Linked DNA regions of Homo sapiens. The protein of the gene in region 7 purifies or fractionates together with the protein of the main gene of each other region. This does not show direct contact. Each region holds a gene or a part of one and is shown on either strand. Other genes may lie near its edges. The genes, in order: TMEM260, LIN28B, NACA, ENAH, RFC1, NSUN2 and SLC24A5.

The links.
Region 1: the proteins of SLC24A5 (region 7) and TMEM260 purify together in Homo sapiens (affinity purification with mass spectrometry; one large-scale study listed by BioGRID and IntAct). This does not show direct contact.
Region 2: the proteins of SLC24A5 (region 7) and LIN28B purify together in Homo sapiens (affinity purification with mass spectrometry; one large-scale study listed by BioGRID and IntAct). This does not show direct contact.
Region 3: the proteins of SLC24A5 (region 7) and NACA purify together in Homo sapiens (affinity purification with mass spectrometry; one large-scale study listed by BioGRID and IntAct). This does not show direct contact.
Region 4: the proteins of SLC24A5 (region 7) and ENAH purify together in Homo sapiens (affinity purification with mass spectrometry; one large-scale study listed by BioGRID and IntAct). This does not show direct contact.
Region 5: the proteins of SLC24A5 (region 7) and RFC1 purify together in Homo sapiens (affinity purification with mass spectrometry; one large-scale study listed by BioGRID and IntAct). This does not show direct contact.
Region 6: the proteins of SLC24A5 (region 7) and NSUN2 purify together in Homo sapiens (affinity purification with mass spectrometry; one large-scale study listed by BioGRID and IntAct). This does not show direct contact.

What each region holds. Positions count from the first base shown.
Region 1 is NC_000014.9:56,621,089-56,625,310, forward strand, and holds part of TMEM260 (protein O-mannosyl-transferase TMEM260 precursor), read left to right. Parts: intron 1-442; coding exon 443-614; intron 615-4,222. UniProt on the Homo sapiens protein: O-mannosyl-transferase that transfers mannosyl residues to the hydroxyl group of serine or threonine residues of proteins. Specifically glycosylates the IPT/TIG domain of target proteins, such as MET and MST1R/RON.
Region 2 is NC_000006.12:105,075,409-105,079,630, forward strand, and holds part of LIN28B (protein lin-28 homolog B), read left to right. Parts: intron 1-3,005; coding exon 3,006-3,375; 3' UTR 3,376-4,222. UniProt on the Homo sapiens protein: Suppressor of microRNA (miRNA) biogenesis, including that of let-7 and possibly of miR107, miR-143 and miR-200c.
Region 3 is NC_000012.12:56,718,206-56,722,427, reverse strand, and holds part of NACA (nascent polypeptide-associated complex subunit alpha), read left to right. Parts: intron 1-968; coding exon 969-4,222. UniProt on the Homo sapiens protein: Cardiac- and muscle-specific transcription factor. May act to regulate the expression of genes involved in the development of myotubes.
Region 4 is NC_000001.11:225,642,700-225,646,921, reverse strand, and holds part of ENAH (protein enabled homolog), read left to right. Parts: intron 1-4,222. UniProt on the Homo sapiens protein: Ena/VASP proteins are actin-associated proteins involved in a range of processes dependent on cytoskeleton remodeling and cell polarity such as axon guidance and lamellipodial and filopodial dynamics in migrating cells.
Region 5 is NC_000004.12:39,286,742-39,290,667, forward strand, and holds the end of RFC1 (replication factor C subunit 1), read right to left. Parts: intron 3,299-3,926; coding exon 3,107-3,298; intron 2,104-3,106; coding exon 2,020-2,103; 3' UTR 715-2,019; downstream 1-714. UniProt on the Homo sapiens protein: Subunit of the replication factor C (RFC) complex which acts during elongation of primed DNA templates by DNA polymerases delta and epsilon, and is necessary for ATP-dependent loading of proliferating cell nuclear antigen (PCNA) onto primed DNA.
Region 6 is NC_000005.10:6,629,523-6,634,215, reverse strand, and holds the start of NSUN2 (RNA cytosine C(5)-methyltransferase NSUN2), read left to right. Parts: upstream 1-1,171; 5' UTR 1,172-1,236; coding exon 1,237-1,332; intron 1,333-1,459; coding exon 1,460-1,617; intron 1,618-2,238; coding exon 2,239-2,343; intron 2,344-4,693. Other genes in the region: SRD5A1 (3-oxo-5-alpha-steroid 4-dehydrogenase 1), read right to left, coding at 347-639. UniProt on the Homo sapiens protein: RNA cytosine C(5)-methyltransferase that methylates cytosine to 5-methylcytosine (m5C) in various RNAs, such as tRNAs, mRNAs and some long non-coding RNAs (lncRNAs).
Region 7 is NC_000015.10:48,123,568-48,127,789, forward strand, and holds part of SLC24A5 (sodium/potassium/calcium exchanger 5 precursor), read left to right. Parts: intron 1-3,655; exon of another isoform or gene 3,656-3,846; intron 3,847-4,222. UniProt on the Homo sapiens protein: Calcium, potassium:sodium antiporter that transports 1 Ca(2+) and 1 K(+) to the melanosome in exchange for 4 cytoplasmic Na(+). Involved in pigmentation, possibly by participating in ion transport in melanosomes.

The DNA.
Region 1 (4,222 bases), on a different chromosome or scaffold from region 7:
AATCATACAAATGCCATACAAATTCAAGTCAGAAATGGGCAGATTTCCTTTTGCATTTCTGAAAGTTCCTTTGAGTAAATGGAATGAACATAAAATTGCCTTAAACTCCAAGTGGAATCAGAAATCTTACTTTCTAAAAATAAAATTGGATTGCACTTAGGGGGAAAAAAGGACCTATTCTTGTGTACTGATTCCCTTTTTCTGGAAATGATTATAAACTCCAGAAGTAAGCAGTAGACTGATTTTTTTTCAATTGCACAATTAGCTGCTGCTTATCAGGTGATAGTATTCTCTCTTCAAATATACATATTATTTTAGAATGTATTGAAACACTAAATGTTGATTGTATGATGGGAAAAGAATGGCATAGAAAATAAGCCTAGTCTTATTAAAACTGTAGCAAAGTGTTGCTATTTTAATTTTTTTGGATCCTTTTATTTAGTGTTTGTGACCAAAGGACCAACTATGTGATTGATAAGTTCGCAAAGAACCTTCTCACCTCTATGCCTCATGATGCAATTATCTTACTCAGAGGAGATTTGCCAGGAAATTCTCTCCGTTACATGCATTACTGTGAGGGGTTGAGGCCTGACATTTCATTAGTGGATCAGGAAGTAAGTATATGAAAAATATACTTAGAATATAGCGATGATTTAAAAACATATGTTTTGGAAAAAACATCTTTTTTAAAATGGTGGACGGGTACAGTTTTCATGATCACTGTTAGGTAGAATATATATGACATTCTACATGTTAGGTAGAATATATATGGGCATACTTTTTTTTATTTTAACTAATAGTGTAAGTCACACTAGTTGCTTCTTTCTCATTTAAAAACATTTAAACTGAACGTTTTAAGAATTAATGTGTTTCATGTTAGATTCATAATGTTTTAGGTCTCTAGTTCATGTGACAAACCATAAAAGTGTTTGTTGTATGGTAAATCTATTTTTAAATTGTTATTTTACATTCAGGCCGGGCGCAGTGGCTCACGCCTGTAATCCCAGCACTTTGGGAGGCTGAGGCTGGCGGATCACGAGGTCAGGAGATCGAGACCATCCTGGCTAACATGGTGAAACCCCGTCTCTACTAAAAATACAAAAAATTAGCCGGGTGTGGTGGCACGCGCCTGTAGTCCCAGCTACTCGGGAGGCTGAGGCAGGAGAATGGTGTGAACCTGGGAGACAGAGTTTGCAGTGAGCCGAGATCGTGTCACTGCACTCCAGCCTGGGCAACAGGGCGAGACTCCGTCTCAAAAAAAAAAAAAAAAAAAAAAATTGTTATTTTATATTCAGCTAACTCAACCATTCAAATTTACCTTGCCCATTGGTCCAGGGATTAAAATAAATTATATTGAATATGAAATAAATCATACTGTAGGTAAGTAAACATTTCACTCAAAATAGAAATTATTAACCATAATTATGCTATAGAATTTTTATATAAACTTTCTTAATGCTGTGACAAAAATACATTAAGAGAGGACTTGTGAAAATTTTGAGGGCTATGAAAACTTTTTTTTTCATTGAAGAACTATTTAAACTAAGATTTATTATTTAAGCCATAGATACATAAAAGGGAAGAAACCTGTCTCTGGTGTTTTTAGAGCAGTCATTAGGAAAAGAGAAATTCTTAATCTTAAAAGAATAATATGATGAATTCAATTGAACAAATTATTAGGCATAGTACTTAATGCACTTTGTTGAATTAATGAATAATTATAATTTTTGGAGAAAACTTTATAAACAGATTTGTAAATATACAATTTTACATTTTTATAAGCAGTTGCATTTATATCATGGATGCCGATTGATTAATTTGAACTTCAGTCTAGATTCTGACAAAAGCTATGTTATTTGTTAATAACATGGTTCCACACTATGATTTTAAACACTGTTTAGAATGTCAGCTCCTGTAGTTGAGAAGCATGGATTAGAAAGTGAATTAGACCTAAACTCAAGTCCTCATTCTGTCACTTCCTGGATATGTGACATGGGGCTAATGATTTTTCCTCTCAGAGCTTCTGTTCCCTTATTTATGAAATGTAAGTCATCATTATGTAAGTTAGGGTGCATTTGAATGCAAGAAACAGAATACCTGACTTAAATGACTGAGTTTTTAGCCTCACATGAGACGCAGTCTGGAGATAGGTGATGTTAGGATTGATAATATGAGCAGTTCAGGGACGTCAGTTTCTGAGGCAGTTTTTCTGCCATTCTCTTGACTTTTCCCTCCCAGTCACAGGATGCATGCCCAGTTCCAAACATCACAACCTAAAACAAAGCACAGTGCTTCTTCTGGGGTATCTCCCTCTCTCTATTTATTGGAAATAACATGTGCCCCAGAAGCCCCCCAGCAGACCTCCACTCAGGCCCCACTGACCAATACTGAGTCATATACTCACACCTAAACTGCTTATTAGCAAAGGAGAATGACTAGACTGAGAACATTGCAGCCTGAGCTACCTGATCAAAATGAAGATTGCATTAGTGAAAAAGAAGAAGGTATTCACTGTTGAGTGGGCAATCAACAGTGTCTGATACAGTTATTCTCACATAGCAAGGTTATTTTGAGAACCAAATGAGGAACAGTAAAGTCCATAGCACACAGTGGGTATGTAATTAATATTAATATCCTCCAGAACCAGAACTATTGGGTAATAAAGCCTAATTCAGTAAGTATTTTTTGAGTATTTACAGTTTAGACTTAGATTAAAATTAATTTGTCATTTGCTGGGTAATGTCTTACATAAGACAAGTAAAACATAAGCACAATTTCTCAAATGATGATATCCGAACATAACAAAGCTTTGGTGGTGTTAATGGGAGTCTCTTCTTTAAAAAGAGGGAATGAATACATATCAAAGTATAGAGTTAAGTATGTGTTAAGTATAGAATTAAGTAAAATGATTTTTTCTAATATAAGTAAATTATTTAAATCAAAAGAATGTGTAAACTTGTAAGGATATGTAATTAATATAGGGCTACTAATAAATTCAGATAATTTGAAATGCCAAAAGAGTTTTTAACTTTGAGGCCTAGATTATTACATGATTGAGCTTCTCCAGGGCAGGGATTATATCTTATTCATTATAGATGAGCATACTTGATTTTTTTAATGAATAAAATAATGGCTATTTTGTCTAGGTTGTCTAGTCTGGCCATCAAAGGCATTTCAATTTCAGCAAACATGATTTGAGAACTGGCCAGGTGTGGTGGCTCACGTCTGTAATCCCAGAACTTTGGGAGGCCAAGGCGGGTGGAGCACTTGAGGCCAGGAGTTCGACACCAGCCTGGCCAACATGGTGAAACCCCGTGTCTATCAAAAATACAAAAATTATTCTGGTGTAGTGTCATGTGCCTGCAATCTCAGCTACTTGGGAGGCTTAGGTAGGAGAATGAACCCAGATGGCGGAGCTTGCAGTGGGCTGAGATCATGCCACTGTACTCCAGCCTGGGTGACAGAGTGAGACTGTCTCAAAATAATAATAATAAATTTGAGAACCGTTCTATGCCAGGCAGTGTGCTAGGTGCAGATACACAGAGATGAAAAAATACAGTGCCTTTTTTCTAGGAGCTCACAGTCTGGTGAGGAACAGGCTCTCATAGAGGTGAGTACAAAGTACTAGAGGATCATGCCATTCTGGCTATGGAGACAGAGGAGGGCATCAGAGGAAGTGATATTTACAGTGGTTCTGAAAGTTGAATACACGTTCTCTAGGTCAGTGGTCCCCAACCTTTTTTACACCAGGGACCGGTTTTGTGAAGGACAGTATTTCCACAGACTGGGGGTTGGGGGTGGGGGTGGGGAATGGTCTCGGGATGAAACTGTTCCACCTGAGATCATCAGGCATTAGATTCTCTTAAGGAGCATGCAGCTTAGATCTCTCACATGTGCAGTTCACAATAGGTTCACACTCCTGTGAAAATCTAATGCTGCCACTGATCTGACAGGAGGCAGAGCACAGCAGTAATGCTGGCCCCTGCTGTGCGGCCCAGTATGGGGACCCCTGCTCTAGGTATAAGAATGGGGGAAGGTCCTTCTGGGGAGTCAAATGCGGGAGGTAAATTGGAAGAAGGTACTGATGTGACTGATGATAGTCATAATAAAATCCAAAGTTTACATCACTAAAAAAGTAATCAGTACCACATTCTCAGTTGTGCTTATATTTTTCAATTATATATATATTAGGTTGGTGCAAAAGTAATTTAGGTTTTTGCCA
Region 2 (4,222 bases), on a different chromosome or scaffold from region 7:
AGGGGTTTCATAATGGAGAGTGATCTGTACTCTTAGTAAGAGTGATTGACACTGAATGATTAAATAGAAGAGAATATAAATACCACTCCTCCCCCTTTTAAGGCTAAGCACATAGACACTAAATGCAAATCTTTTCAATGTGGAAGAAAGTCTGGCCTAATGATAGCACATATCAGGAAAGCCAAGGGGGTGAATTAACTATGCAGATCAAAATGTAAGGAAACCAAAATTATATAGCATCCTTAAAAATAACTTTTATAGCCCAAATCTAATGGTAAATGCACAGATAGAGGGTAATTGAAGATCCCATTTGTGAAAGTAGAATACTGACATCAGGCTCCTGGTCAATGAGTGGGCAAAATGGTTCCCTGAATTGGATAACACAGTGCATACCACGGTGACTGATAAAATTGATGTGTCTGCAGGAGAGCCAGCCCTATTACTGAAGCCTTTAACCTATTTTCTGTCTCTTTGAAAATGAGCTCCTGAGTGGAAGTTATCCTCAAGGAAGTGAATTTAATTCAAAAGAAGATATTTTATAGATGGGCAACTTTAATTTAAGAATTCACTTATCTATTGTAGAGGAGAACTGTGTGGGAAAATATATTATTATAAGTAATGTGGTTATATTTTTCAAATATGTCATTTTTTAGTGTTATTTTGAGAACCTGAATTTTAAGCATTAGCAAGTAAACTTTATTATTTAATCTTACACTCTCTTAGAACATATGGCTGAAACAATATTGAATCTGCACTGTAATACTTTATTAAGATATGTAATTATACAATGAATAATTTAACTACAACATGTGATTTCTTGTTTTTTTTTCTCTTTTTGAAAATATGATTCAGTCTGTCCTAAGATAAATACTTGTTAATCATTGCAAAGAATAAAAGCCCATCTTATAAATTCATTATTCTAAAGTATATAAGGTAATATTGCTAACTGGAGAAGCAGGCAATAGTTACCCTAATTTTTGCCAATTAAAAAATTCACTGTTCAATTTATGCCAGGAGATAAAATACTAAATATCCTATATACACTGCTTAGTAGGTTGTTAGTACCTTAGTAGTTTGTCTATGAAATATAAGGTAGAATAAATTATTAAGTTTGATGTTCTCACACACATACAAATATGTCATCATAATTCACTTCTTGTTGTGAGTCTGGACTTAAGCCAATTTTCTCAGTTAACACTTTTTTTGTTGTTGTTGTTGGAGATGGAGTCTCACTCTGTCGCCAGGCTGGAGTGCAGTGGCGCAATCTCGGCTTACTGCAACCTCCGCCTCCCAGGTTCAAGCAGTTCTGCCTCAGCCTCCCGAGTAGCTTGGGACTACAAGCGCGCGCCATCATGCCCAGCTAATTTTTGTATTTTTAGTAGAGGCAGAGTTTCACCATGTTGGCCAGAATGGTCTGGATCTCCTGACCTCATAATCCGCCTGTCTCGGTCTCCCAAAGTGCTGGGATTACAAGCGTGAGCCACCGCCACCCAGCTAGTTAAAACATTTTGTTATTATTTTTTAAAAACATTATAACCTGGCTGGGTGCAGTGGCTCACGTCTGTAATCCCAGCACTTTGGGAGGAAGGGGCAGGCGGATCACTTGAGGTCAGGAGTTCAAGACCAGCCTGGCCAACATGGTGAAACCCTGTCTCTACCAAAAATACAAAAATTAGCCGGGCATGGTGGCACATGCCTGTAATCCTAGCTACTCCCGAGGCTGAGGCAGGAGAATCGCCCAAATCCGGGAGGCAGAGGTTGCAGTGAACCGAGATCACTGCACTCTGGCCTGGGCAACAGAGAGAGATTCCATCTCAAAAAATATATATATATAACCTGTTGTTCTTTGTGCTTCATAAATGAGATTTATGGAGTCATAAATGTATTTGGAAAATAAAATAGAAAGCTCTTAAAATATTTCATTTGGAGACAAGTCATTAAACAAATTCTGTATTTAAAATCAGATTTAACACCTTTGGTAAATATAAATTTTTCTTAGTTTCTTCCACTAATGGTTTTTTTGTTACTTTTAATATAAAATTTTAGAAGAAAATCTGATTGAACAAATATACCTCTGAAAAAATTTTCTTGCTTAGCTTTCCTTGCCAAGCTAAAAGCTGAACTTTCAAACATCTAATACAAAGCCATGTCCCCAGTGTGCATTCACATATTATGGACGGATTTCCATTTATTTTAACTTAAAAGAGATCACCCTAAAAGAAAGCTAATTTCTTACAAAAAAGAAAAGAAAGTTAACTTTTCTCATCATTGAACTAGCATGAACCTTTATTAATTCAATCTAAGTATTTAGAAGCTTTCTTTTTTTAGCACTGTTCTGATTCAGACATTTACTCTATTGCTCTAAAATTACTTGGTAATTTGCCAGATATCATCCTGACTTTCTGACTAGACTCTGACTTTCTTATATATCAAATTTCACTGCATTACTTAATTTTATACAAAGGAAAAAAATTTTTCCAGTTTAGCTGGTTTCTACAGTCAAAATAATTAACATTCAAAGAAGTGTTAAACTTTTAAATTTGGTCTAAAATTTTGCCAGTTTCTGAGTGAATTGCCACTTTGTATCATGCCAACAGCTGTATTTCTACACTCTTGTTTTTAAAACTGGCTTGTTGTTTTTTGTTGAATATTCGCTGCCCTCTAGTGGGCTTAATGGTTCTTTTAAAATGACCAGATAGTGTCAAATTTAAAGGAATCCTTTCTATATGGAAGTGATTAAATATTCTTACATGTTTTAATACTCTTGTTTTTCACTGTGTTTAGTTGTGTCTCACACAACTAAGTTTTTAACCTCACCAGAACATTTTGGTGATGATAGTCTTTGAACCAACAGTGTAACCAGTATAAACAATGATAAATGCTTTTAAGAAGGCACATTAAAATAAGCTTATCTCATTGGTAGTTTGTGTGTTTTCACATTTTAAAATGTGTTTTTGGATACATGCTGCCTACTTCTAAGATGTTTTCATCTTTTTTCCTTGTAGATGCTACAACTGTGGTGGCCTTGATCATCATGCTAAGGAATGTAGTCTACCTCCTCAGCCAAAGAAGTGCCATTACTGTCAGAGCATCATGCACATGGTGGCAAACTGCCCACATAAAAATGTTGCACAGCCACCCGCGAGTTCTCAGGGAAGACAGGAAGCAGAATCCCAGCCATGCACTTCAACTCTCCCTCGAGAAGTGGGAGGCGGGCATGGCTGTACATCACCACCGTTTCCTCAGGAGGCTAGGGCAGAGATCTCAGAACGGTCAGGCAGGTCACCTCAAGAAGCTTCCTCCACGAAGTCATCTATAGCACCAGAAGAGCAAAGCAAAAAGGGGCCTTCAGTTCAAAAAAGGAAAAAGACATAACAGGTCTTCTTCATATGTTCTTTCCTTTACCCGGTTGCAAAGTCTACCTCATGCAAGTATAGGGGAACAGTATTTCACAAGCAGTAGCTGACCTGGGATTTTAACTACTATTGGGGAACTGTGAATTTTTTAAACAGACAAATCACTCTAAGCAAATTACATTTGAGCAGGGTGTCATGTTTTATGTTAATTCAGAGAATAAGATACTATGTCTGTCAATATGTGCATGTGTGAGAGGGAGAGAGCCTGAGTCTGTGTGTGTACATGAGGATTTTTATATAGGAATGTAGACACATATATAAAGAGGCTTTGTCTTTATATATTTGTGTATAGATCAAAGCACACACCCTCTCTCATATAATTGGATATTTCCAAGAATTGAAAACCCATGTGAAGCATTATAGATAGTTTTAAATTTAACCCACTGGAGTTTTCTTGAAATACCACTTCTTTTATATTATATAAAACTAAAAACACGACTGTTACCTTTTGTGTGAACCAAAGGATACTTCAGATCTCAGAGCTGCCAATTATGGGGTACTAAAGGTTTTTAAGACATCCAGTTCTCCCGAATTTGGGATTGCCTCTTTTTCTTGAAATCTCTGGAGTAGTAATTTTTTTCCCCCTTTTTTGAAGGCAGTACCTTAACTTCATATGCCTCTGACTGCCATAAGCTTTTTTGATTCTGGGATAACATAACTCCAGAAAAGACAATGAATGTGTAATTTGGGCCGATATTTCACTGTTTTAAATTCTGTGTTTAATTGTAAAATTAGATGCCTATTAAGAGAAATGAAGGGGAGGATCATCTTAGTGGCTTGTTTTCAGTAGTATTTTAATATCAGCT
Region 3 (4,222 bases), on a different chromosome or scaffold from region 7:
ATGAGCCACTGTTACAGGCTCTCCAATTCTCTTCTTCCAAAATAGCACCACAATCTGGTTTAACAAGTTAGGTTACAGTTTCATAATACAGTCCCTACCCTTGTGAGTAAGCTCTCTGCCTGGAGGTCTAATTCATGTCTAATTCATCTTGGATTGATGTCTGAAGAATTAACATCACCTAGGAAGGTTTATAGAGACTATTACAGTCCTTTTGTGGTTGGTTTTCTTGTTTGGGTTTTGTGAGTAAGTAAACTGGTAAGGTATAAAGAAGCTAAGTGACTTTAATACTTGATATTAAATTCTGAAGTGTTTCAACTTTAGGAAGAACTGAATTGTGCTGTGCACCTCCTTCCCAAAACTATTCTAACAGAGTCAGATGTTTCCTAGCCTAGTGGAAGCCTGAAAGTATAAAAGCCTGTGTTTTCTTATTCAGTTCAGATTCCCCATCATCGTCACTGCTCACTAACTTCTTTGTTCCAGTTTTCAGTATCTTTTCTGTTCATGATATTTGGGTGGACAGAGTAGCACAGCTGTTCTTCTCGTGGGAATTCTGTTGGCTGTGAGAAAGACTTGGGAATACAGTCCATTTCAAGAAGTAAGGGGAGGGCACAACTGGGAAAGGATAGAAAGCATGTTGTTCTCAACCTACCAAGAGTCTGTGCTCCCCATTTAGAGATAGGCTGCTCTTAGACTGTTCTCCTCACCCTAAAATAGTTGGTTTACTTTGGTAGAACTTGGGGAAGTGTGAGAAATTAGGAGGGGAATGTCTTCTCACTTGACCACTGAAAAATGTTTGGGGAAGGTTGTTGTTGCCTGTCACCTTTATCTAATCCTGCGTGGTGACTTAGACTGTCAGATTTTAAACTCCAGTGTTTCCTAGGAGGCATGTTGTACCAAGTTGGGCTGCATAACTCACCTTTTTTCTCCTCCCCCTCCCCCTTTCTTTATCTCCTTTTGCCTTTCTCCAGCTGTGCTACCTATGTCTTCAGCCTTGAGTGTCACTGCTGCCTTAGGGCAGCCTGGACCTACCCTCCCCCCTCCTTGCTCTCCTGCCCCACAACAGTGCCCTCTCTCAGCTGCTAACCAGGCTTCCCCATTCCCTTCCCCCTCTACTATTGCCTCGACCCCTTTAGAAGTTCCTTTTCCCCAGTCATCCTCTGGAACAGCCCTACCTTTGGGAACTGCCCCTGAAGCCCCAACCTTCCTACCAAACCTAATAGGGCCTCCCATCTCCCCAGCTGCCTTAGCTCTAGCCTCTCCCATGATAGCTCCAACTCTGAAAGGGACCCCTTCCTCTTCAGCTCCCTTAGCTCTGGTTGCCCTGGCTCCCCACTCAGTTCAGAAGAGTTCTGCTTTTCCACCTAACCTTCTTACTTCACCTCCTTCAGTGGCTGTAGCTGAGTCAGGGTCAGTGATAACTCTGTCAGCTCCCATTGCTCCCTCAGAACCAAAGACTAATCTTAATAAAGTTCCCTCTGAGGTAGTCCCTAATCCAAAAGGCACCCCCAGCCCTCCATGTATAGTCAGTACTGTTCCTTACCACTGTGTGACTCCCATGGCCTCTATTCAATCTGGAGTGGCCTCCCTTCCTCAGACAACACCCACAACTACCCTAGCCATCGCTTCCCCTCAAGTCAAAGATACCACCATTTCCTCAGTTCTGATTTCTCCACAAAACCCAGGAAGCCTCAGCCTGAAGGGGCCTGTTAGTCCACCTGCTGCCTTATCTCTTTCAACTCAGTCTCTTCCTGTGGTGACCTCTTCTCAAAAGACTGCGGGTCCCAACACCCCCCCAGATTTTCCCATTTCTCTGGGCTCTCATCTTGCACCTTTACATCAGAGTTCTTTTGGTTCTGTCCAACTTTTAGGTCAAACAGGTCCTAGTGCTTTGTCAGACCCTACAGTGAAGACCATTTCTGTAGATCATTCTTCCACAGGGGCCTCTTATCCTTCTCAGAGATCTGTAATTCCTCCCCTTCCTTCCAGAAATGAGGTAGTTCCTGCTACTGTGGCTGCCTTTCCAGTGGTGGCTCCATCTGTTGACAAAGGTCCCTCTACCATCTCTAGCATAACCTGCAGCCCTTCTGGCTCCTTAAATGTAGCTACCTCTTTTTCATTATCTCCTACAACCTCTCTCATTCTCAAAAGCTCTCCTAATGCCACTTATCATTATCCTTTAGTGGCCCAAATGCCCGTTTCTTCTGTTGGAACCACCCCACTTGTGGTGACTAACCCCTGTACAATTGCTGCAGCACCTACTACTACCTTTGAGGTAGCTACTTGTGTTTCTCCTCCAATGTCATCAGGTCCCATAAGTAACATAGAACCAACTTCCCCTGCTGCCTTGGTTATGGCACCTGTGGCTCCCAAAGAGCCTTCTACTCAAGTAGCAACCACTCTGAGGATACCAGTCTCTCCTCCTCTGCCAGACCCTGAAGACCTCAAAAATCTCCCCAGTTCAGTATTGGTTAAATTTCCAACACAAAAAGACCTCCAAACTGTACCTGCCTCTCTTGAAGGAGCCCCTTTCTCTCCAGCCCAAGCAGGACTCACCACCAAGAAAGACCCTACTGTATTACCGTTAGTCCAGGCAGCCCCTAAAAATTCCCCTTCTTTCCAAAGTACATCCTCTTCTCCAGAGATACCTCTTTCTCCTGAAGCCACCCTAGCAAAGAAAAGCCTTGGGGAGCCTCTCCCTATAGGTAAGCCAGCCAGCAGTATGACCTCCCCTCTGGGTGTTAACTCCTCGGCCTCTGTAATCAAGACAGATTCTTATGCAGGCCCAGACTCTGCTGGTCCGCTTCTCAAAAGTTCTCTCATTACCCCAACAGTGGCTGCATTTCCTTTGGAAAGTGCTGACCCTGCCGGGGTGGCTCCCACAACTGCCAAAGGTACCTCAACTTATACAACTACAGCCAGCCCTTTTCTAGAAGGAACTGTCTCTTTAGCTCCTAAAAACCACCCAGTTAAGGAAGGTACTCTTACTACTTTACCCTTGGTTCCTACAGCTTCAGAAAATTGCCCTGTGGCTCCATCCCCCCAGAATACCTGTGCTCCTCTGGCTACCTTAGTGCTGGCCCCTGAAATCCCAAAGTCTGTGCCCTCACCCTCTCTTCCCCCAGCTGGGACTCCTCCAGGTACAAAAAAGGTTGATGGTATTTCTCATACTTCAGCATTGGCACCTGTTGCTTCCTCTCCCAAAGAGTGCCCAACTGAGGACTCTGGTGCTTCTGCTACTGCATCTTCCAAAGGAACTCTGACTTACCTAGCTGATTCCCCATCTCCTTTAGGGGTTAGTGTGTCTCCTCAGACTAAAAGACCTCCAACCAAGAAGGGTTCTGCTGGCCCTGATACTCCTATTGGAAATCTCTCATCCCCTGTTTCTCCAGTTGAAGCTTCATTTCTTCCAGAGAATAGTCTTTCTTTCCAAGGCTCTAAAGACTCACCAGCCACGACGCATTCTCCCACTCCTCCATCCCCCAAAGGGGCCCCTACTCCCTCAGCTGTGACTCCTCTGTCTCCCAAAGGAGTAACACTACCCCCCAAAGAGACCCCCACTCCTTCAGTGGTGAATCTGCCCTTCCCCAAAGAGGGTCCAGCTACTCCAGCACCCAAACAGGCTCCTGCTCTATCCATGACTTCTTCCTCCCCCAAAAAGGCCCGAGCAACTCCAGCCCCTAAAGGAATCCCAGCTTCCCCATCCCCCAAAGGGGCCCCCACACCCCCAGCTGCAACTCCTCCCTCCCCTAAAGGAGGCCCAGCTACCCCATCCCCGAAATGGGCCCCCACACCCCCAGCTGCAACTCCTCCCTCCCCAAAAGGAGGTCCAGCTACTCCATCCCCCAAAGGGGCCCCCACACCCCCAGCTGCAACTCCTCCCTCCCCCAAAGGAGGTCCAGCTACTCCATCCCCCAAAGGGGCCCCCACACCCCCAGCTGTGACTCCTCCCTCCCCCAAAGGAAGTCCAGCAGCTACCCCATTCCCCAAAGGGGCATCCACACCCCCAGCTGCAACTCCTCCCTCCCCCAAAGGAAGTCCAGCAGCTACCCCACTCCCCAAAGGGGCCCCCACAACCCCAGCTGCAACTCTTCCCTCCCCAAAAGGAGGTCCAGCTACCCCATCCCTCAAGGGGGCCCCCACTCCCCCAGCTGCGACTCCTCCCTCCCCAAAAGGAGGCCCAGCTACCCCATCCCCCAAAGGGGCCCCCATGCCCCCAGCTGCA
Region 4 (4,222 bases), on a different chromosome or scaffold from region 7:
GTGCTTCAAATACCAATCACTGGGTAGTGTATGATACTCTTGAAGTATTAGTGTGGGCTGCCATAACAAAATACCATAGACTGGGTGGCTTAAACAACAGAAAATTATTTTTTATTTTTATTTATTAATTTTTTTGAGACAGTCTCACTGTGTCGCCCAGGCTGGATTGCAGCGGCTCGATCTCAGGTTACTGCAAGCTCTGCCTCCCGGGTTCACACCATTCTCCTGCCTCAGCCTCCTGAGCAGGTGGGACCACAGGCGCCTGCCACCACGCCTGGCTAATTTTTTTGTATTTTTTAGTTGAGATGGGGTTTCACTGTGTTAGCCAGGATGGTCTTGATCTCCTGACCTCGTGGGATTACAGGTGGGAGCCACAGCGCCCGGCCTAGACATTTATTTTAAGGTTCTGGAGGCTGGAAGTCAGAGATCAGGTTGCCAGTATGGATGGGTTTTGGTGAGGGTTCTCTTCCTGGCTTGCAGAAGATATCCTTCTCTCTGTGTCCTCACATGGTAGGGTGGGTATGGGAATCCTGGGGTCGGGGAGATGAGGGGGGATTTCTCTCTCCTCCTCATTTCATAAGGCCATTAATCCTATTGAATTAGGGCCCTGTGCTTATAACTTAATTTAACATTAGTTACCTCCTAAAAGCCCTTTTTCCAAATAGAGTCACATTGAGGGTTAGGGTATTAACATATAAATTTTAGGGGAACACAGTTCAGTCTATAGCAGAAGATAACTACATTTTTTTTTTTTGTCAGTGCATACAACTTTGGAAGAAAATAATTTGTTTAATATTTAGGTGAACTTTAGATAAGTTTTGTTTTAAGTAACCAGAAGTTGTTTACTAAAGAAGATAAATTAGGGGGGTTGATTGATTTATACAAGATATCCGTTAAATTTTCTAGAAATCTCTTTACACTGGGAACCTTCTATTTTACAATGATTAAAGTAAGTTTTATTAACAGGCAACTTTTCCAAAGACTACTTTGGGTATGAGGCAATGTATGTATATCTAAGTGTAGAGATTGAATGGTGTAGGGTAAAGAGGACAGGCTTTGAAGTTAACTCTGGGTTTGACTCTAGTTTGACATTTACTAAATAATTTATTTTTGAGTGGGTTATAAACATTTTTTGGGATCGAATATACTTTGTGAATTATAGAGCTGTTGAGAAAATTAAATAAAATTCTGGCATAACACTTGGCACACAAAATGAGCTTGATAAGAGTAAATCCCCCACTTTTATGAAAGTCTGACATCTCTTAAGTTTATGTTAAGAATGTGAAAAACCATGTAAGATGGTGCAGCTGCTTTAGAAAACAGTTTGGCAGTTCCTCAAAAGTTAAACATAGAGTTATCGTATGACCCAGCAATTCCTTTCCTAGAAATGAAAACATTTGTCCACAGAAAAACTTGTACACAAATGTCTATAGTATCGTTATTCATAACAGCCAAAAAGCAGAAATAACCCAGGTGTGTCTGATTTCATGAATAGATCATCAAAATGTGGTATGTCCATACAACAGAATAATATTTGGCCATCAAAAGGAATGGAATTCTGATACATGCCACAGCGTAGATGGAAGCATTATGCTAAGTGAAATAAGCCAGACACAAAAGGCGATATATGCCATGATTCCATTTATATGAAATGCCCAGAATAGACAGATCTATATAATAACACCAGAAGATCTCATTTGCTTTTTACGTGAGTTGTTTCTGACATTTTTATTACTTTGGATTAATATTTTGAATTGACATCTTCGTGCTATTTAAAGAAGAGAGATTGAAGATAGAACCACTGGACATTTCTCTGTAGGGAAACAAGCACGTGGGAATGCTGAGGTGGAAACCTTGGTAGTGGTGGCTTTGAAAGGCCTGAACAAATTTTGGAGCTGTATCTTCGTGCTAAGGAGACAGCCAGCCATCTCTTTGGTAGGCCTGTTGTAAGTAAGGATGACTAAAGTCACCAGTAAAATGTGATGAAGCAAATCCATCAGAATCTTCAGAAAACTTAAATCTGGGTGGTGATTTTCTGGGGTTTGTTTACAGTAGTCTCAAATACCAAAAGTTTTGTCTTTGGGGAATGAGGTAATCATGATATTTTTAAATAAACTGAGCCCTTTTCCAGTGGTAAAGGCCTTATAGAACATCTGGTCTTGGTAAGAATACATCTGATGATGTGAAATCAAAATGACTACCTTTAACTGTGCCTTAGAGGTCCTCAGTCTTCTGTCCTTTTTGGTATCTGTTACATTTGCAACTTGGCAGCGGGGGAGCTTTATGAAGAACCAAGAACTTAAGTAAAATAAAATGAATAGCTCTTGAGGTCAAATCTCAAGGGAGTCCAAATTGCTCCTTTTACAGTTCAGTGAAGGGATCTTTTTATGCAGTCTTAATAATTATTATATACTGGTTATTTGAATATCTGCTTTGTTCTGCAGTCTTTCTCCTCCTCCCCCAAATTCTCATGTTAGACTGATATTGCAAGCAAAATTGTGACCGTTCAGTTTTTAACAATTTAAGATTTATGTATCTTAAGTTTTCATTTAAAACTTTTACTTACAGTCTACTTAATTGTGGTCTTTGCACAATTTTTTTAGAATTATTTTTAGAAAAATAAATCAATTACTGTTGTCCATATGTCTGGTCAGTATTTTTTTAAATTACTTTTTTCCTTCCATTGTAAAGTAGTACAGATTTTGAACAGATTTTAGAAGGTATGGAAAGTATAAAACATTTATTTATGAAATGTTAAATCCAAGCCATCTAGTATTTTAATATTTTAATGTGTAGATTTCTAAACTTTTTGTAGTGCATTTGCAGCATTGCAGATCATTGTGCGTGTGCATATGATTATATATAAAAGTAAGATTATACTATTTAAAAATGGAATTATACTATATTTGTATTGTGTATTTTGTAGCTTGTCCCTTTCCATATATATAATATCTATACTTTTTACATTTTATTATTTTTATTTTTTAAATAGGGTCTTAAACTGTCACCCAGGCTGGAGTGCAGTGGTGCAATCATAGCTTACTGCAGCCTCGAACTCCTGGGCTCAAGCGATCCTCCCATCTCAGCCTCCTGAGTAGCTGAGACTACAGATGTGCGCCACCACACCCTCTAATTGTTAAGATTTTTGTGCAGAGACAAGGTCTCGCTATGTTGCCCAGGCTGGTCTTGAACTCCTGGCCTCAAGTCATCCTCCCACTTCAGCCTCCCAAAGCACTCGGATTACAGGCATGAGCTGCTGTGTCCAGCCAGTAATTCTTGTTCCTAACTATATAGCTACATAACTTTAAGTGACTGCATAATATTCCATTGCTTTGGATGGATGACTTTGTCTACTTAAATCTTAAAGATGGACTTTTAGATTTGTTCCATTATTTTTGTTATTATAAAAAACACTGCTGTGAACATCTTTGGTTATATGTCTTTGTGTACATATCTGATACTGTTTTAGGATACATTCCTAGAAGTAAAATCAAGAAGTAGTGCTGTGTTTTGTTTTTTTTTTTATTTTTTGTTTCTTTACCTTTCTGTATCCAGTCTATCATTGTCCTACCAGGTCACCTTCACTTGCTTCTGTCCATCTCACTGCCTCAAGTCCAGGCCACTGTTATCTCTTACCTGAACTATTAGTGTTTCCTCATTTCCATTCATGTCCCCTGTTCTTCATGCATCACTCAGAATACTCTTAAAGTGGAAATCAGATATTGTTATTTCCCATGTAAAGCCTTCAGCGGCATCTTAGACTAAAACCCAAATTTGTCATAAAACCAAAATTATTAAGGTCTTGCGTGACCTGGCTCTGCATTCCAAGTTCCCAGCACAGGCCTCTGTGAGTATGCATAAGTATTTGAGTGAATAATAAACAAAATGACTAAAGGGAGTTGTATCAGTTTTTGATACACGTTACCAGATAAGCAAGAGTAGATGAGATTTCTAGTTACCCCACATTCTGGCCAGCTCAGGCCATTATCGGTCTTTTAATCTTTGCCAATGTGATAGGTAAAAGGTGTTACCTCATTGGTTTAATTTGTATTTCTTTGATTACCTGTAGGGTCTCTTTGTTTGTTTATTGGACAGCTTTATTTTTGTGTGGATGTCTGTTCATGTGCTTTTTCTGTTTTCCCAATGAGATGTGTAGTTTTTCTTCTAATGATTTATAATAATGAGGATATTAACTCTTCATAGTGCATATACATATATCGTA
Region 5 (3,926 bases), on a different chromosome or scaffold from region 7:
AGCTACTCATCCTAGTACAAATAATCTACCCCATCAGTAACTTTAAGAGATCAAATCATGGTGGTGCTACAAACTGCCAACATTTAACAAGATGAAGGCTAAAGCTGAATGGTGTGTAAGTAACAAAATGGCCGTGACTCAATGGATCTCGAAAAGAGTAAGTATACAGTTTTATGCTGCAAAGATGGCATGTGCCATCAAGTGGCTCCAAAAGGCCACATCATCGGTGGCTCCAATGAAGACTCAACCCCAATACAGACCATTCAGATTCACATCCAAACTGCTGCAGAACCACCAACTGCCTCCTACCATGAATCTCACTCATTCACCTCATGGTCACGAGGGCTTCAAAGAGGAATCAGACCTATGCCATCCTCATAAAGGGCATATTTACAATTTCTAATTCTAAAAGAAATGCTATTAATTTTACACACATATTATCCCAATCTTGGGTTTAAAACATTTAAAATTACAAACAAAATCATAATGAACAAGTGAAGGACACTATGCCGCATCCTGGCTGCATGGAGATTCAAGTCTCTCTCCTGGGGGCTGCAGAAGACCTAGGGAGACGTGACTTGCATATCCAAAAGGCATAGAAATGGAAGAACATGAATAGGAAAGCCAGCCTCACCCTACTGGTGAGAAAACCTTTCCTGAAGCATAAGAATTTCAAGATGGACTTTAACAAAGACAGGGTCGTGACTCAGCAGGCAAGGGCTTAGGCAATGTTTTATTTCCATAATGAATTAATCTCCATAAATGACATTTTTCACACTGGTAAATACAGTTTAAATGTCTCAAGAACTTTGTCTCATCACCCAAACAAGACTACCAGTTCCTTAAAGCAGGGAATACGATCCTTATTTTACATTCATTTTAGTATATACCTCACAGAGGTAGCACAGACCTCTGAGCATTTACCAACAAGATTAAAAAATAGCTAGACATCTAAATTCCAGGCTAGGTCCATAGCCTCACGGCCACTCAACACATACAGTTATAGGAATAACCCAAACTTCCAACAGGGTTTGTGGAAGCCATCACAGGACAGGACTAGATCTCTCAGGGGCAAAGTGAACAAAAGCCAGTGTTCATTTTGTCCCCCACCATAGTGAAATTAAGAGCCTGACCCAGCCTGGTTCCTACTGGTCTGAACCTGATGGGTTGAGACTCCAGAAGGATAAGAATGTCTGAGAATCTTCTGCAGCCCCCCACGCTGCAAAGCCCCATAACAGACCACTGCATGAAATCCTATTCACAGCAGAGACGTGGTCAACACACACAGAGGGAGTGAGGCTGGGAATCCGAGTTCTGACTCCTCGACTGCCAATGTTATGTTTCACACAACAGGTTAGTAAGGAATACAGTGAGCTTTTTTAATCCAATCATTTGCAAATTAATAAGGAAGTAATATACCAACATAATATTTTGCTGTACAAGATGACAATCTTAAAAAGAATTTGTACACATATCATGTGGAACATTTTTATTCCTAATTTATACTTTGAAAGATATCTGACAATGTACAAAGAATACCCAGTTCTAGGTGGTGACTGTTTTGTATAATCATTTATTTACAAAATTTCACCACATAATAGGAACTGCCTTTAAAAAAAATCAGCATTGGTCCTATAAAGGCCATTAGGATAAATTCTTAAGCCTACAAAAGACGCCTTAGTACTACTGCTCCCAGGCTCATTATTGTTAACTAAAATCTGACTCCAAAGCCCAGGTGTAGTTTCTAGTTCCAATTCTACAGTCATTCAGAAGCACGTCTAACTAGATTGACAGAGGACAGTGGAGGACCCAAGCAGTCCTATCAACCTCTATAAGAGGTGTACATAAGCCTACTGCTCATACCCTTCTAGCCATACCACCCTTTATTTATAATGGGACACCAGGTCATCCCATTATGCTAAAACATGGTTGCTCTGGGAAAAAACAAGGCTTTCTCTAGACCAGCTGGACTGGTCAGGAGGGAGAGTAAAAAGTGGCTGTCGCTAGTGAAAAATGGTTTCATTTCTTCGAACTTTTTCCTTTTCCTTTTCTGGGCTCCTTATCTTTTTCTGGTTTTGAAGGCTTTGAAGATTTTGTCTTTTTCTGTTAGGGGGAAGATAACAAAATAGTTAATAGCTGTGTTTATGAGTAAATGAAATAAGTTCATCTCTATAACAAATCTAATCTTTACCTGCAACTTAATTAAAAAAGAAGAGAGGCTGCAAACATCGAGATCTTGAACTACTGCAACCCATGAAGCGCTTACAGCAACAACTGCGCCACTTACAGCCTTTAAAAGCTGGCAGTAAAAACTTTTAGTTTAGAATTTAGAACTAGGATCCGTTCCCCATGTAAGACAGTTTCTTGGATTTAGAACAGAGGTATACTTAGGAAAGACAAAATAAGCAAGAGGTAATTGACAAATAGGGTAATGTTTAGATGAAGAATTTCCTCTTCTTTCAGTTTCAGATTAGAGGTGTAAACAGTCATTTTGTGAAAGCAGAAGAGAGGGAGAGAGGAAGACCACCTGTTAGGGTCGACATGGGAGCCACAGTGAAGAAGGCCACTATTCCTACTCCTGCATACAGAAAACAGAAATGAAGGGCAAGAAGCACCCACACCCAGCGAAGGACAGAGGAGGATCAGATGAGGTTCCTTGGCTCAGCCAGCTGTACACAGCAGGCTGATACCACAATTGGTTTTCATATTTCCCATCAAAAGACAAGAATGTTTTGCTCTAAGAAACTTCTACAAAGCAGTTTAGTGGCTATAGCAAAACATAAGCAACAGAAGAAACTGTTTTGTTACAAACATTTTTCTTGAAAGCATACACCAATGGCTAGATAAATAAAAATGGTACTTTTTCTAACAGAACATATGGCCGTCAATATCATGGCCTGTTTTCTTGCTGTTTGGCTCTTCGACTACCATAAGAAACTTTATAAAAATGAAATCTCTACCTTCTCCACCCTCAACCATGATGAACAAAAAAACTTAAGAAGTATTTTCAAGTTATTCTGCTATGTGCTGAAAAGGCCCTATTATTCACCAGGCAAGGAAAGATCATCTATTTTGAGGTTCTCCTGTCTGTGGCTTAAAATACTACCTTGATCATGGCATCAGTTTCTATAGCATCTTGGTCTTTCTCATCAGATTGAGAGTCATCTTCATTTAATTCTTCATTGTATTCCGAATCCAGGGATGGGCTTGTGCTGTGTCTAGATGCCTTTATAGCTTGAAGTGAGTATGGAGTAAGGTGGGCTTCCTTATTGTAAGCTCTTGTGAAGGCTGCTTTCACCTATATGAAAGGAGTAGATGGAGTTTTTAAAAATCTAAGTCCCAAACAATTCTTTTAAACTCTGTAAGCCTAAAGAGACCCTGGGAGCCCCCTGCAACTGTTTGCAAAGTATTTATGTATATACATGTAAATCTAAGTACGTGCATTTTTCTGTGGATAAGTTCCATATTTTTCATAACATTCTTAATAGAGCCCATGACAAAAAAGACTGAAGGTGGGGCACAGTGGCTCATGCTTCTCCATGAGAATCTTGAACCCAGGAGGTGGAGGTTGCAGTGAGCTGAGATTGCGCCACTGCACTCCAGGCTGGGTAACAGAGTGAGATTCTGTCTAAAAAAAAAAAAAATACGTATATATATATTTGGGAACTTTAGGCAAACAAACAAACAAAAGGTCACTTCAAGTCATCATGTTTACCTATTCAGCATTCTCCACATTTCTACAAAGTAGTAAGCAAAGTTAATCAGTGAATCAGTAAATCAAAAAGGGGCTCGGCTGGGTGTGGTGGCTCACGCCTGTAATCCCAGCACTTTGGGAGGCCAAAGCAGGCAGTTCACATGAGGCCAGGAGTTTGAGACCAGCCTGGCCAACATAGGGAAACCCCATTTCTACTAAAAATACAAAACTT
Region 6 (4,693 bases), on a different chromosome or scaffold from region 7:
AACTGGGATCACAGACAGGCGCCACCGCGCCCGGCTAAGGAAACCAAACCTAGGACCACTGAGTGGCTCTTTCCAGATCAGTTTCATCATGTTTTTTTCCATCACTCCCTTCCAGTCCTTTGTTTCCCGCCCTTTCCAGACGAATCCCTTCTGGTTTCCAAACTCCCGGGGCCGGGGGACTCGGGGAAGGGCACCCGTGCAGATGGGGGACGCCCCGGGGGATCTGGCAGGGAGAGGGCATCTGGGTGGGGGAGGCTTCGGGGAGAGGGCACCGGGCAGTGAGGGGAGGGTCGGAGAGGACGCCGGGCCGGGAGTAGGGTAGGGGGCCGGGGGCCGGGGACGTTACCGATGCCCGTAGTGGACGAGGAACATGGCCAGGAGGATGCAGTTGGGCGCGCTGCGGAGACGCGGGGCGGACTCGCTGGCGTACTGGTAGAGCGGCAGGGCCAGCGAGGGCAGCTCCTGCACCACCCAGGCGGCCCGCGCCGGCACTCGGAGCCTGTGGCTGGGCAGCGCGTGGCGGCCGTACACTGAGTTCGTCTGACGATTGCGCGCGAAGACCGCGCAGCCCACGGCGCACTGCAGGTAGGCGAGCGCGGCCAGCAGGCGCTCCTCCGCCACCCCCGTCGCCGTTGCCATCGCCAGGGCTGGGCAGCGTGCTCCATGCCCCAGAGGCCGCGGCGGGCAACATATAGGGCGGCGGCGCGGGGGCAGGAGGGGCGGCTACCGGAGGGGCGGCTACCGGAGTCCCGCACTGCCGGGACTCTGCAGAAAGGGTTCTCAAGTCAGGCTTCTCCGGGGTAGCCGGGGCTGTGGGTGCGGCCCCGGGGGCGGGGCGAGCACTTGCGCGGGGAGGGACCTGCAAGCGCCCCACCCACGCCGGGGCCGCAGTAACCCCGCGCCGCTCTGCGCACGCGCGGCTTCAGGCTGTCCGCGGAGCTCCTTGAGCCCGCGTGGGAAACCTGGGCGCTTCGCGCGGAGACGCCTTTGTGGCTGCTTCCTGGAGCATTTTTTTCCCCTTAGAGCTGTTCGCTGTTTTCCCTGTCACGCCGCTTTTCTGAAAGACGGGTTGTGCGCTTTGGGCTTATTCCTGGACGGTCCCCAAAGGTCCCCGAAAGGACCAGGCCCGGACACGTGGGGCCTTGGTTTCCGGCCGGAAGTCCCGGGAGGTGTAGGGCTAGAGTTCTGGCCGTGGCGGGCCGGTTTCTGCGTGCTGCGTGCGCGGCCGCGTGGGCTATGGGGCGGCGGTCGCGGGGTCGGCGGCTCCAGCAACAGCAGCGGCCGGAGGACGCGGAGGATGGCGCCGAGGGTGGTGGAAAGCGCGGCGAGGCGGTAGGAGCCGGGACCCGGCGGGCGGGCCAGGGGCTCCTCCTGGGCTTCCCGGACCCCGAGGCCTGCGAGGCGGCGGCGAGGGGGCGGCTCCTTGGGCCTCGGGGTAGACGTCTCTTTCCTTCCTCAGGGCTGGGAAGGAGGCTACCCCGAGATCGTCAAGGAGAACAAGCTGTTCGAGCACTACTACCAGGAGCTCAAGATCGTGCCCGAGGGCGAGTGGGGCCAGTTCATGGACGCTCTCAGGGAGCCGCTCCCGGCCACTTTAAGAATTACTGGTTACAAAAGGTAGGGAGGCAGTGCCTGATTTTTTGGGAGTTGGGGCCAGGATGCTGGAGGTTAAAGGCGACGGTGTTTTCTTCGACAAGTGTTACAGTGCCAGAGAACCGTGGCGTTTCAGCGGTTTGGATTCAGGAAGCATTGAGGTGGGGAGCACAGGGTCCAATGAAATGGTCACGGAGGTATTGCAGGCGCAAGGTTAGAAGACGAAATGAAAATGAGATCTGAGGAAGATTCGGCTCCTGGGGAATCTTCCAGGAGGGAAGCTGAGGGTCTTACCTTTTGGAACGTAAGAGAATTTATAGAGAATGCATAAAACCCCTTGGTTCTCCCCTCCTCCGCGCCCCCCCTCCATCTTTGTAGTTACATCTTTCTAAATGAGTCGCAAGTAAAACTTAACGGTAGGATATGCTTAGGAGAGAAGGAATGCAGTGTTGCTCTTAGGGCTCAAACAGTGTGGATTGCTTAAATTTTGAAGGCATACAGTGTAAAAGTAGTGACTAAAGAATGTTTACTCTCCATGCAAAAGTTGGTTTTAGTTTTAAAACACTTGCAGTCTTAAATTTAAGAAGATACAATGTATTAACTTAGTTTTTTAGATCAGTTTGAAACTTCCTTATTTTTCAATAGCCACGCAAAAGAGATTCTCCATTGCTTAAAGAACAAATATTTTAAGGAATTGGAGGACCTGGAGGTGGACGGTCAGAAAGTTGAAGTTCCACAGCCACTGAGTTGGTAGGTACCACAGTGCTTCATGCCGAATATTTATTTGGGATATTAATCTCTATCACTTGAATTATATTTCTTGGTACTGCATTTGCTGTTAAAGAGCTTGGGTATACTTTGCAAACATCCTAATGTTCTAGTACCTGGTGCTTTTATCAACATTATATTGCTACGCAAGTTTTCATGCGATTTGCGATTTGCAGCTTTATGAGTCACTGATTTCAGCCAGCTCTTCCTAGTACATCCAGCCTCTTCCTTTATGTCACCACTTCCGCCAGCTCCCTTTTACAGCCCTTGTTTTCTCACATCAAAACTGTTGCAGAGTGGCTGCTTTGCCTTCAGAAAAAGGACAGACTTAGCTTGACAACAGTCTCCTGGTAGGTAGTCTCTTAGTGTTTTCCATTACAGACAGGTTACCACTGTCTGCTGTCAGGTTGTCTCCTGGTACTTCGCAGTACAGACTGCACCAGCCAATGTAGCATTTCCGAGTCTCAGCACCCAAGCGTGCTACTACTCTGGGAGCTACCTCTTTCTTGACCTGTCCTGGAGGTGCCTTCTGGGTTACCTATTCCTCATGGCTCGGTTCTAGTCTCAGTTGTATGAAGGTGATCCCTTGTGCTGATAGCATCTTGTAAAGATGCTTGGAGAACTCCGGAGGCGCCAGTCCTTCAGTTAACTTACATAAGTGGGAAAGTCGTTATTATTAACTTTGAGGTATTGAGTTCTCAGAAAAGTAATGCACGAAAAGGTGAATTAAGCCGTTTTTTGTTTGTCTGTTTGTTTGTTTGGAGACGGAGTCTCACTCTGTCGCCCAGGCTGGAGAGCAGTGGCACCATCTTGGCTCACTGCAAGCTCCACCTCCCTGGTTCACGCCATTCTCTTGTCTCAGCCTCCCGAGTAGCTGGGACTACAGGTGCCCGCCACCACGCCCGGCCAATTTTTTTGTATTTTTAGTGGAGACGGGTTTTTACCTTGCTAGCCAGGATGGTCTCATCTCCTGACCTCATGATCCGCCCACCTCGGCCTCCCAAAGTGCTGGGATTACAGGCGTGAGCCACTGCGCCCTGCCAAATTAAGCGTTTTGCATCAACTTTTGAGGTTTTGACTATTCCAGTACGTAGTGTTATCTTTCCTTTTTGGATAACCTTTAGTGTTCGCAAATCAAGGTCAGATTTTCATTAATCATGGGGTACAGATTTGCTTGTTTTTCTTTCATTGGCTATTTGGATTTTCATTGTCCCTATCACAGATAAGCATATACATTCACAATGAATGCTGACTGGCCAAACATTAAGTCAGTATTCAACCAGTATCAAGACCGAATATCACCATCATGGAATGTGTTGCTGGGATATAGGAATAAATATGACCAACATCGTGAAACCCTATCTCTACTAAAAATACAAAAATTAGACAGGCATGGTGGCACACGCCTGTAATCCCAGACACTAGGGAGGCTGAGGCATGAGAATCGCTTGAACCCAGGAGGTGGAGGTTGCAGTAAGCCAAGATCATGCCACTGCACTCCAGCCTGGGCCACAGAGCGAGACCATGTCTCAAAAAGGGAAAAAAGAATAGATATGCCACATCTTAGATTTTTAAAAGCTTGAAGGGTACAGTATAGGAAAATGATACGGGTGCTACGTTGCTGTTAGTGGTCACTAATTGTCCACTGTAGTGAGATCAGTGGAAAAGGTAGATGTTTTTCAGCCTCTAGTTATGGCATTGCTGAGATGAGGTAACCTTCACGAGATCAAGCTTTTCTTCCTCCTGGTAACTAGGTTGTAGACTTTGCTCAAGTCGTTTGGTTTGAAGATTTGATTGACGACACTGATTGTGTTGTACTTGAAGTAGAGGTCTGATACTGTAGTAGTCCATTTTCACACTGTTATAAGGACATACCTGAGTAATGTATAGATAAAGGAAATAGGCTTAATTGACTCACATTTCCACATCGCCGGGGAGGCCTCAGGAAGCTTAAAATCATGGCGGAAGATCTCTCTGCACAGGGTGGCAGGAGAGAGAATGAGTGCTGAGCAAAGGAAGAAGCCCCTAATAAACCATCAGATCTCCCCCTGAGAACGAACTCACTGTTGTGAGAACAACATGAGGGAAACGGCCCGGGGATTTAATTATCTCCACCTCGTCCTGCCCTTGACACGTGGGGAATATTACAATTCAAGGTGAAATTGGGGTGGGAACACAGAGCCAAACCATCTAAAATATTTTAAGAAGACAGGATTACGATTCTCCTCGGGCATGTTTGTATTTTTAGCAGTGATGCATGTATGTGCTGCTTCACACAATCACCTGGAAACATTTGTTTCTAAAACCTTGTGTTTAGAAGCGCAGAGACGGG
Region 7 (4,222 bases):
TACACATAGTAGGCACCCAGTAGAAATTTATCATAAAATTTAAAACTATTACTCTCATTGGACATTTGGCCTGTTTTAAGTTTTTTGTGTTAATGTCATGCCCATAATTGTATAAAATCTTTGCACACCTCTCTGATCATTTCCTGATTAAGAGGCAGAGATGTGGATATTTTAAGTCTTATGATATATATTTGCAAAAGGCATCCCACAAAAGGTGTGCCTACTTATACCTCCTTAAGCATCCATTCCAGAAAACCATGAAAAATATGTGAAATATCCTTGGTTGCTTTAACCTCCCATTATTTTATAAAATTTGTGTTTATCTTATTATCCATGAGGGTGAATATTTTATATGTTTATTTTATTTTATGGTTTTCCTTTTGTGTTTTTTTGCCCATATTATATCAGGGGTATTCTGTCTCTTTCTTATTGATTTTCAAGACTTTAAAAATATATAAGGATATTAACCCTTTTTCTAGTATTACTTCATATCATATGCTTTTTCATGGTTTGTTTGATTTTGCATTTTGTGTTTATCACATTGAAGTTTGAAGTTTAAATATTTTAAGTAAATTTGTAAATCTTTTTCTTTATGGTTCTCCTTTTGGTTTTATAACTAGAAAGGCATTTTTATCCATAGGTCACAACAATCATCATATTTTATTCTACATGCAGGATTTTTTAAAATTTATTTATTTTTTCCACTAAGAATCTGTCTTGCTATAGGATGTAATGTTCTTTTTTCCAACAGTTGATCAATTTTCATATACTAAGTTCTTATATAGATGTAGATCTGTCTCTATGCTCCCAACTCTGTTCTAATAACCTTTTTGTACATTCTTATGCCAATACTGCACTTTTAATTAGAAAAATGTAAAAAACTAAAAATTGAAAAATTAAAAATGTTAATCATATAAAACACAGAAATTTAAATTGTAAGGAATAATTTCCATTTCTAATGACTTAACTGAACAATGACATGACTGAAAAAATAAATCTATCAAGAATTTTATTATAAAAATTATCTTAGGAGAAGTGAAAAATAAATAAAAAACCTTTCTAGCCCTGTAGAAGACACTACTGCATTAAAATTTAGATTATGACTTCAAAATATTGTTCATTAAGTGACTTAATATGTCTAAGTGACTTCCAACGTGCACCTTGTGAAATTACTTTGAAAGATCATCAGCAAACATGCATTTCTCAAGTGAGTCTCTCTGCCCTGAAATACAGTAGTTCTTACAGATGTGTGATTGATGAATATCCATGCCACTGCCAAATCTTCAGCTGTTAAAAATTGACCCTCATCTTGAGTATTGAAAATACTGGCAACAAAATGAGATAGAAATAGTGCTAGCTCAATTCATTTTTAAATGCTTATAAATTAATTCTGTCACTTCTCTTTTCAAGTTCTAGCATGGTCTTATCCAAATTATGACATCAGCAATAAAAAACAATTTTCCTGAAATTTCTTCACATCTGCAGAAACGGGCTTCAAAAGTCTGCAAGTGCTTTGCCTTTCCCCAGTTTCTTGATGAGCATTGAGTCATAATAGTTCCACCCATTTTGTCAACTAATAGTTATCAACATAACCCTCAAAACAGTTTACTAAAGTATTCCACAATGTACTACAGTGTTATTTTTTATCAGTTACTTATGATAAAATTATAGATGAAAGATATATATCTTATAATAATATATGGTTTATATAATATATATGATTTTATATATATATATATGGTTTCACTTAGTCTTCCCAAAAACCTTACAAAATAGGGACTAATGTTTTGGTTTTACTGATGAGGAAGCCAAGGCTGGGAGGGTAGGTAATTTCTCATGACCACATAGCCACACAGAGAAAGTCCTGATCTCTCTAATGCCAAAACTCAAGCATGATCTCAACTGCTACATGATAAAACTTTACACATCCTTGTTTGAGATTCGTTGCTAGAATATAGTTGTTTCAGAACTGTTCTATTTGAACCATCTTACAAGAAATTTTCCTCTCGAGAGCACTGAAAATTTTGACAAAAAAATATCAAATACCCACAGTTACTATGGAGGAAGTATATTACAAAATAAAGAGAATACATTGAATTATTTACAAAAATCATTTTGGACCTTTGGCAACCTATAGGTGATTGTAAATCAATGCTATAGACACTTATCCATAAGCTCCCAGGCCTAAACATTTTGTCCAAGATCATGAGATCATAATGTAGTACAGTGGAACTTCATCATCATAGATGAGGCTATAATGTCTTGTGGGGTATGTATACTGAGTTCCAACCTAGAATACAATGGAAGGATTGGCAGGCCCCTGTCCCACCCCAGCCCCACTCACTCCTCAAATCACCACAGTGGCTCATTTGGCCAACAGCAGGATCTTTAGCCAGGTGAAGACTAGAAGAGGCTCAGGATTGTCATCTCCGTGCAGCGATGAGCTGGAAGTGGAAGAGGGCAGAGCCTCTTGCTGGTGCTCTGGCAGGGCCCCCGCTCGGTCAAACCAGTGCTCTTTCTCTTTTGGACCTATGTATGTTGGTCTTGGTCTCCTAGAGCTGCCTCCACCAGAGGCTTCCAGCAAGGATTTTTTTTCCTTCTCCTTGCTCTGCTCATGATCATAAAAGTCACACACCCTCTCCTCTACCCTCGAACACTGGAAAAGCTGGAAAAGCACCTATCTCTACGAGGCAACCTCAGACACTTTACCACCATCTTAACTGTATGGAGCCAATAAAAGAAAATGCTGTTGCTATGCCCCCTTCCTGTAATCCTATCTTCTTTTTCTGTCCATTTGGTTCTACAGGAAAAGAAGCTAATAATTCTCTGAACACAGAGGGCTGAAATGAAATTAATTGGTGTTGTAGAGGGGACACAAATATATCACCCTCTAGTTGTCCAGGGCATTTCACGTTTGGAGGAAAGCCTTGGCTTCTGGGCTGGGAAACAGAATGGAGATTCTGGGAAAAGAGTTAAAGATGTGATCAGAAGAGGAGCATTATCCAAGCCCAAGTTAGAGCTAAAGGAGCTAGAGGTAATGGGGTGAGGAATAAACTAAGGAGAGCTTCCTCATCCTAACCAGTTGTGCTACTCTAGAATGTTACCCGGATGGATACCCTGAGGGGTGTGTATGAGAGACAGGAAGAGAGACAGAGACACAGTGAGAGAGGAATCCAAATGACTAAGGAAAAGGAGGGAGCCTTTGTCGTCTCTGATCATTCATGTAAGCCTGACTTAGAAACCTGTGTCTAAGATTCCCTTGCTTAGTTTGTGAATTTAGTTACATCACTTTGTAGTCCTATCTGGTATTGTTTGCTTGGGGCTTTTTCCAATTTTTTTCTCTCTATATATTGATATAGTTGCTGAATGGTCTATGACAAATGCTGAGAATCCCCGGACAGCTGGAGGGGAAGGACACAGCCGTCATATGCTCTAGTGCCACACTCTTATAGAGAGACAATTGAAAGTGCCCACCCTGGAGCCAGATAGCCCAGGTTCAAATCCCGGCTCTGCCATTTGCTAGCACTGTGACCTTGGGCAAAGTTCCTAACTTCCCTCTGCCTCTGTTATCTCAGCTGTGAAACAGGGTGATTACAACTTTCAGTTCATAGTGCTGTGTGACAAGTGCACGAAGAAACACAAGTGAACTGCTTACACAAGTACCTAGCACATAGAAAACATTCACTGAATGTTCATTGTTACATAAGAACAGACTACAGAGGTTAGAATCCTTTACTCAGGAAAGATGAAAGTGGAGATGGGGAATACCAAAGCCTATTTAAGTATTTTTGGAGCAAATAACCAAATCTACGGTGCATCTGCTAGAACTTGAACACCAAATTTAAGGTAAATAAAAGTAAGGTCTATTTGACAAGGTAGGAAGTAAGCTTATTAAACTAGTTATTTTATCTAATAAGCCATGTGACAACTTTAAAGTATACCTTAAATATCTCTGGAATATTCTGTTTAGGCCAGGAGCAGTGGCTTACACCTGTAATCCCAGTGCTTTGGGAGTCCAAGGTGGGTGGATTACCTGAGCCCAGGAGTTCGAGACCAGCCTGGCCAACATGGTAAAACCCCATTTCTACAAAAATACAAATATTAGCCAGTCGTGGTGGCAGGCACCTGGCCTGTAATCCCAGCTCCTCGGGAGGCTGAGGCAGGAGAATTGCTTAAACCCGGGAGGCAGAGTTTGCAGTCAGCTGAGATCATGCCACTGCCC